Regions from separate parts of the Homo sapiens genome. Here regions 2 and 3 are each linked to region 1. Evidence: fine-mapped expression QTL. A gene starts in region 1. Each other region holds a variant in brackets. All regions are shown on one strand. Distances are between the middles of the regions.

Region 1 (2,672 bases):
CCACGGTGAAGGGAACGGCTGAACCTAATCCGCCCCGGAGGAAAAGCGCACTGCAGCAGGAGGAGAAAGTCCGTGCCAACCGGATCTGCCAGAGCTGCCCCAGGGACCCAGCCTGCTCGCAGCCACCTGTCCAGCCACCTGCCTGAGGAAGCAGTGTTCTAACCGGGCGGGCTCACCTGGAGCAAAAACCGTAAGCTGTTTTCAATAGGAAGCACAATGGGAAAACAAACGGTGCAACTTTCCTCCTGCAAAAAGGACGTGCGTCTTTATCTAACATTTAGCGTCAGGAGTTCTCCGTGGAGAGTTGGGTGCCAAGCGGGTGCGCGGTCCCGGCTTTGCTGAGAGAGACGGTCACTGAACGCGCATCCCTTCCTTCCCTTTTGGGATGAAGGGGTGAAGGGGTGATCCCTCGCACCCGGGTCCGAGCGGACTTCTGAGGGCACCACAGGGAAGTCTGCAGGGCACTCGCGGGACACCACCCGACCGCTCCTGAGAAACGTGCAGAACCGGGGTTTGGGGACCGCGGACGCCCGCGGGGCGCAGCCGGGAGCCCCCGCGTGGGACCCGCTCGGTGGCACGAGCGCAGTCCCCTGCATCTAGGCCTCAGTTTCCTCCGGGTCCTCGCGGCCCAACTCGGCGCGCGCCCCCCGCCCAGCGCGCGGCGCCCGGGGCGCCCACCTGCGCGCCCCCCGCCCGGCCCCACAGCCGCCCGCCGTCCGTCGGGGGCCGCGCGCTCCGCCCGGGGCGCCGGCCCGTTACAGCGGCGGGGCACGCTCGACAGGGGCGGTGACGCCCGCGGGACCCCGGGCCGGGCCGAGCCGGGCCTGGGCGGCCGCTCGGGCAGGGCCACGGGCCTCGGCCGGGGCTGCCGCGGCGTGAGGGGCGCGCGCCCGGGCCGCCGCGCCGCGGGCTCACCTTCTGTCGGATCTGACCCGACGTGGACACCTTGCGGATGAGCTTCTGTGGGGAGCCGGGCTCCGCCTCGGGCTCGCTGTCGGACGACTCCTCGGGCGGCGGCGGCGGAGGCGGTTGCGGGGGACCCGGCGGAGGGGCGCCCGCCGCCGCCGCCATGCTGCCGGGCCAGCGCGCGCACCGCGGGCGGGGGCGGGGCGGGGCCGGCGGGAGGGGCGGGGCCGAGGGCGGGCCGGGCCGGGGGCGGTGGGGGCGGCCTCCCGCCTCTCCCCGCCGCGCCCCCTGCCGGCCATGCGCGCAGCTGCAGACGGCGCCGCGCGGCCCCTCCCCGCCCCCACCTGAAGCGTCCCGGGCCCCCCGCCCACCTCTCCGGGCCGTGGCTTCTGTGTGTTATTTCTGGAACGCCGTTTGTGTTCTTGTTTCTATATTCACTTCTTAAAACATCTCTACTCTTCCGCATCAGAATGTAGGTAACCTCAGGCAGGCTGGGGCTGTGTCTGTCCTGCCCAGCCTTGTGTGGCCGAGTTTGGGGCGAGCTCGAATGCGCGCGCGCGTGCTGGAAAGAGACCCCGGTACTGGGACGGGCCTCGGGACGCCAGAGCTGGGATGCACCGCTCCATCTGGGAAGGCTTCCTGGAGAAAACGGTTCTTAAGGAGAGATGGAAAATGTGAGCAGGAGTTGTGACTAGAGAGGGAACCATGTTCTAGGCAGAGACCAGATTTGTGCAAAGGCCTGGAGGCAAGAAAGAACGAGTGTTGGGCGAAGACGGGGGAAGAAAGGGAAGCTGGTGCTTAGAGCAAGGAAAATGGCATTAAGATATGAGCCTCGGGGCGGGCAGGTCGAAGCGGGCTTTGGAAACCAGATAAGGGGATGGAAGGCAGCAGGAAGCCCTTGAGGGATTTAACCCTGGGCGGGGCTGGGTCACCACGCTGGGGCCTGTGATCCGGGCTTTGAAGTTATCAGGGCAGGTGGACGCCCTGGATTACCGAGGGGCTGAGAGATAGAGACGTGGACTGAGATCCAGGTGGGGAGTGACCAGCGACTGGAGGGAGACAGAGGTGACCAGAACGAGTCCCATGTTTCCCAGGGGGGCTGCTGGATGGTGGGCGGGTGGGGTCCAGCGCTGCTCTGGGCAGAAGAGGAGGAAGCGAAGCTGGAGATGAGATCAGCTAAGTTTTTGGTGCCATCCAGGTGGAGCAGGGCTTGGTGCCACCCAGAGGAAATGCTGTCCATCTGTCTGCCCTGCTCTGAGGGGCAAATCAGTAAGGGACTGCCCAGGTGTGCCCTCTCCCTGTCAAAGGGCTGCCGCTAGAGACCTCGCCTGCCAATAGGCATTCGCTGGCCGCGCCGCCCTGGGCAGTGACCTGGGGCTGCAGAGTGGCATCTGGCATGGGGACACGGCCAGGGGCATGGGCTCACGGCCAGGACAGAGGAGGACAAGGCCTAAGGCAGGAACAGTCCGGGACAGGCCGAAGGCCCCATGGTGCCCCAGGGTACTATAGCCACTAGCCACATGTGGCTACTTAAATTTCAATTAGTTAGAATTCAGCATTCCGTTCCTCAGCCACAGGAGCCACATTTCAGGGACTCAGTAGCCGCATGTGGCTTAGCAGCTGCCACGCTGGATAGCACAAATATAAAACACTTCCCCCGTCCCCCCAGAAAGTTCTGCAGCACAGTCGCATGCTGAACTGTGTCCTCCCGTAATTCATATGTTGAAGTCCTAACCCCCAGTACCTCAGCATGTGACTGCATTTGG
Region 2 (2,672 bases), 100 kb before region 1:
GACAGACACTATGGGGATGCCAACGAGATCACAACTAGAAAGAGACAAATAGGACTTTTTTTTTTTTTTAACATTAGGGGAAGGAGATGGTCCTAGAAATTACTGCCCTATTAGCTTAATCATTGTGTCTTAAAAAAAAAAAAAATCCTAGAACAAAACACAAAAAGCTCCAGCTCTTAACAGTGCACACAAGAGCCCACAGGTGAGCCCTGTACCCCACCCAGGTACCGCGGGCAGCCGCTCTTACCCTGTCTCTGGTCAGTGTCTGTGCCCGGTTCTTGTGGACAATCCGAATGTACCCTGGCGGCTGGACCCAGGCCTCTCCGTCCACCTGCACAGGCACGCCCTCATCCCCAAGGATGGAGATCTTCACCGTGCGACACTGAGCAGACATCATAGCCATTACTCATGCTGAGCCAAAACCCCCAGGGGTTTAAAAGTGCTATCAGCACCACCATGACCTTCCTGCTCCACACACCCGTCCCTGCCTTGCAGGACACCCCACCTCTGCCTCTGGGATGGCGCTCCGCCTGCAGCTAGCCTTCTGCTGTTGTGTCACTCAACCGAGGGTCTGTTCTCCCACTGTCCCGCCCCATCCCGCCCCATCCCCTCACTGAGCAGTCAGTGCAGGAGACCTTGGTGCTGAGACAACAGGTGTCAGAACCCAGGGGCAGGGGTGTTGTAGCTCCCAGAAGCCACTGGGCCCCTGCCACGTGAAAACACCCCTAGAAAAGAGCAGATGGCACAGTGGATGACGATGAGCCATCCATCATCATCCCGTTCCTCCTTTTCAACAACAAACATTGCCAAAGAGTGAAAATTGTGAACTTCAAGCAGCCTACAGCTAAGGGTAGACAGAGTGCTGGAAGACACCAGACAGTCGCAGGGTGGGGTTCAGCCAGTGGGTGTCATCAGCACCCTCCCCCGCCCCAGTGCCTGTGCCT[G/A]GGTACAGAGTCCTGCCCCATCCTCACAGAAAGACTGCCCTCAGCCCATCGCTGCTGTCAGAAATAAGCCATGGGGGCACCCCCAGCCCTTCACCACTCGGCCTCAGAACCATGATCGAGGGCCCCAGCTGGAAATCCTCCCACACCCCACATCAGAGCCATGGGCTCCGTCCCCACTGCGGCTTTGACAGCTGCAGACACGGGCAGAGTCCAGCCTGGGTCTGCTCTATCTCATCCCACCTCAGAGGGGACAGGCAAGGCTGTGGTTCAAGCAGGATACACATTTTGAAAGAGTTATCTTGGCCGGGTGCAGTGGCTCACACCTGTAATCCCAACACTTTGGGAGGCCAAGGTGGGTGGATCATTTGAGGTCAGGAGTTCGAGACCAGCCTGGCCAACATGGTGAAGTACAAAAATTAGCTGGGAATGGTGGTGGGCACTTGTAGTCCCAGCTACTCGGAAGGCTGAGGCGGGAGAATCACTTGAACCAGGGAGGTGGAGGTTGCAGCAAGCCGAGATTGCACCACTGCACTCCAGCCTGGGCAACAGAGCAAGACTCTGTCTCAAAAAAAAAAAAAAAAATTAAAAAGAGTTATCTTGAGAATTTAACTGTCAAGCATAGCACAAGGAAAGGGCTCTGGCCCAGGAAGTGGGGCCACGAGCTGTCCAGGACAGGACATGAGGCAGCCACATGGCCCTGGAAAGCGCCCACCCTCCCAGGCTCCATGCACTGCCCCAGAATTTAGCACACTCCGGGCTGGGGACTCGGCCAGACACCCCAGGACCATGGCCACTACCTGGGCGATCCGATGATGCTGTAGCCTGATGACTCGAGAGACGGCCATCTGCATGCTGCCGAACACGGCGACCACCTCCAGAATCTTGTCATCGAATGATGGAGCTGCGAAAGTCTGCAAGGGACACGTTAGAGCTGACCACCACTCCACACATCCCCGAGCACAGGCCGCCCCTACCCTCACTCCCTCCCTCTGGGGGTCAGCCCCTCCTAGCTGGCGAGAAGTTACCAGGTAACTGCACTCCTGACGGGCTTCATGTTGCAGGCCCTGAAACCAGCTGCCTGGGACCAAATCCCAGCTCTCATCTCGGCAAAGTTACTGAATCTCTCTCTCCCCCATTTCCTCATGCGTAAAATGGGGAAACTAACGGCACGCTCCTCCAGGGCCATCAGTAGGGCCAAGTGAGTTAACGCTGCAGAGTGCCAGGACTGGGGCCAGCACACACCACGTGTGCAGGAAGCGCTGAATACTTCTATTCGCTATTACGTACAAAGGAAGGTTTAAACCAGGTTTAAACCTATCAACACCTTCCCACAGTTCTTAACACAAATTCCAAACTTCTTCCCCAGCTCACACAGCCCAGTGTGACCCAGGCCCTGCAGCCCTCTCCTGTCTCTCCACGCCCCTGCTGCCCACTGCAGTCGGGGCACCTCTCTCCCATCCTCCATGTGCCTGCCCTGTCTTGACTCTGAGCCTTCATCTGTGCAATTCTCTCTGCCTGGAACAGCCTCCCCCTCTCCTCTGCCCACCTAACTTAGCCAACTCCAACTCATCCTTCAGGTCTTGGCCTCCCAGACACCTTCCCTGACCCTCCTTCCACGTCACACCCGCTGACCACATCTGCTGACCACAGACCCTCACTGACCACCTTCACTGACACAACTGCTCTGCTCAGCCCTCTAGACGATGAGCTGGGTGGGGGACCCTGTCT
Region 3 (2,672 bases), 120 kb before region 1:
GCGGGACGCCAGCCCAGCACCAAAGGGCAGGTTCCTAAACACTCATGTTCATTCCTTCCTCACATTCTAACTTGTTAGAATTAGAAAAATGGTTTTTATGTAAACAGTGTTGTTCTAATCACTGACAACATATTAATTTTAAACACTTTTGATCCAAACCCAACTCCTTGCCAGGAGTAGGACACTGAGGACTTGGGGTGGCCCTGATGTCCTTGAAGCCACAGTCAGCTGTTTATCCTCCTCATGTCCCCTCCCCACCCAAGTTCCAGCTTGCCTGGGGCTTGTTCTGGGACCCTAAGAACCCCAGGATGCCCACATCGCCAGGCCAGCAGGGCCAATGGTCATGCAGGGACTGCGGGACAGGTTCCCATCATCTCCTGTGTTAGCCCATTCCACCTGGGAAACCAAGCGACTGCCGTGGCTGGCTTATTTCTCCCTCTGCCAACCCCCATCTACAATGTTCTGGGGAAAACAATGAGAGGTGGAAAAGGTAACATACAACCACCTTCCACCCACATCACTTCCAGTGAGGCAGCTAAGTCCACCAACAGAGCGTGGGAGAGTCTTTCATCCAAAAATCCCAACACGTCGCATGCAGCGACAGGAGGCTGTGCTGGGGAAACCCAAGGCCTGGCTCAGCCTCCATACTCTAAGGGCCTCGGGCCAGAACGACCACGAGAGGGGAGCACCCAAAGGCACGCAGAGGGGCCCACCTGGGTGCACTGCAGAGGGGACAGAGGGGCTGTGAGTGGGAGGTGGGCCAGTGCTGTTCACTGCCGCCTGCTCAGGACCAGGGGCTGCTGCAGACCCAGCCCGGTCTATGCCCACCCCCGCAGGTGCAGCCCAGCTTCTGCACATCAGATGGAGTGACGCTGACTAAAGGACCTGGACAGCGCCGGCAGATACTCCCAACACTGTCCTTCTCTTTGGGAGCCAAAGAGAAGCCACGGCAGATACTCCCAACACTGTCCTTCTCTTTGGGAGCCAAAGAGAAGCCACGGCCAGGCAGCCAGGCCAGAGCCATTTCCTCCTCACACCAGGGCAGGGGTTACAGAAACCTCTTCCCAAGACATTTACAAGCACCTCTGAGCCATGACTATCAACGGGAAAAAAGGGCAAAGTCAGTGCCCTGGAGGACCAGGGGCATCCTTCACCTGGGCACTGTCCCTACGGGGCACAGCCCTCTCCCCAGGCGAGCTCCCTGCCCTCTGGCACCATCATCTACTAGTTCAGAGCCAGGACAGAGGCAGGGCAGGGGCAGCGCGGACCACCAAATCAGAGTCCCTGCCAGCACCTCCAGCGACATCACGCCCAGCAGCAGGCGACAAGAAGCCACTGCAGGGGCAGACACTCAGGA[G/C]AGCCTCCGGCCTCCAGGCCACCGGACGGGCTGAAGAGGTCAAACCACCCCTGGCCCACCAGGGCCACGCTCCCTGGGAACCACAGAATGGGCAGAAAAAGTTTCCCAGAGCCAGGAAGCATTTCCCACACAGAAACACTCATGTGGACACACATCCTCTGTCTGCAGGGATGCAGCTGGCAAGCTGTCTCACTCACACCCCAAGCTGAACTCGCCTAGAGCGTCCGGAGACAGAAGGGCAGGCGTCCCCAGCCCACAGTGGGGGGAGGGAGGAGCGGGAGGAGAGAGGATGGAGGAGGGAGGAGCACAGGCCCTGTGACACCCAGGGAGGGGCTCCCCGCCTGGGAAACAGCACCCGCTGCCTTGGCTCACGCAGGAGGAATTTTTTTTTCTCTTCACGTCAAATTACAATCAACAAGACTGGAAACATCCATGCTACTTTCAAACCAGGAAAGAGCACGATTTTTGTTCAACAAAAGCTGCATCAACAAACAGGGGCCCTTGCAGGCTGCTGTGCTGGGCCCCAGCCACGTTTCTGAGAACTGGCTGGGGGCCAGGAGGCGGAGCCACACGGTGCGGCCACAGAAGGACACACGGAGAGGAGCCCCCGGGACAATCCAAGCACGAGGCCAGGCAAGCAGTGCCCAGGAGGCCAGACGCCGCTGGATTCCCTGGCCCACAGCACAGGCGGGCGAGAGCTGAGTGGCCGTGACACATGTGCCCCAGGTGACTCTGAGCTGGAGAAAGTGTTGTTTCAAAGGTAGCTGTGTTGTTATGTTCGAGACCCCAGAGCTCTGGTGGACGGTGTCACGGAGGCTTTCTGTAGCTGACAGAGGAAGTAGCACCATGAGAAGGGGGCGGGCTGCAGCATCTGCCCAGGGCCTCAGTGGCAGGAGGCGCAGAGGCCACAGGCTGAGAGGGCGGAGGCTAGGCCTCGGCGGCGGGGATGTGGAGGCCACAGGCTGAGAGGACAGAGGCTAGGCCTCGACGGCGGGGGCGCTGCGGCTCAGCTCCTTGATGCCACACAGGATCCTCTTCATGTGGCCCACCTTGGTCACGCCCAGGTCCTGCAACAGAGAAGACACCGCCATGGATGCCGAGAAGACAGCCAGGGCCAGAGGGCTCCACAGCAGGCCTGCCACAACGGCCCTTCCCATTCGGCTTGTGAACACAAATGAGAGCCAAAATGACAAAAACGGTAAAACAAGATGGAAACAGCTTAAAAGTAACAACCATACAGATGCCTGGCCCATTGTTCCTGCATTCTAGTCACTACCATCAGCAAGGACAAATCCAAGACAAAGACAAAACACAG

Alleles and levels. Alleles are on the strand shown, and positions count from the first base shown. SD is a standard deviation of normalised expression in the study named. Not every link is listed here.
For the expression in vagina of the gene that starts at base 1,096 in region 1, C is the low allele of the variant in region 3 and G is the other (small effect, 0.28 SD a copy in GTEx).

What was found. PIP is the estimated chance that this variant, and not a neighbour inherited with it, causes the effect. A credible set is the group of variants that fine-mapping cannot tell apart.
Region 2: its variant is the best candidate, but not a certain one, in a credible set for the expression of DGKD in blood mononuclear cells (TOPMed, PIP 0.74).
Region 3: its variant is the best candidate, but not a certain one, in a credible set for the expression of DGKD in vagina (GTEx, PIP 0.70).

The regions. Positions count from the first base shown.
Region 1 is chr2:233,352,918-233,355,589 of GRCh38, reverse strand. DGKD (diacylglycerol kinase delta) reads right to left here and starts at 1,096. Exons shown (of 30, transcript NM_152879.3): 1 at 916-1,096. The coding sequence starts at 1,071. RefSeq lists a silencer at 907-1,146 and enhancers at 1,397-1,446, 1,587-1,646.
Region 2 is chr2:233,457,467-233,460,138 of GRCh38, reverse strand. DGKD (diacylglycerol kinase delta) reads right to left here. Exons shown (of 30, transcript NM_152879.3): 22 at 1,742-1,855; 23 at 248-382. Among named protein-coding and RNA genes, the nearest start is that of DGKD, 100 kb to the right of the region's middle. The variant G/A (reference allele first, on the strand shown) is at 945.
Region 3 is chr2:233,469,123-233,471,794 of GRCh38, reverse strand. DGKD (diacylglycerol kinase delta) reads right to left here. Exons shown (of 30, transcript NM_152879.3): 30 at 1-2,424. The coding sequence ends at 2,335. Among named protein-coding and RNA genes, the nearest start is that of USP40, 96 kb to the left of the region's middle. The variant G/C (reference allele first, on the strand shown) is at 1,358.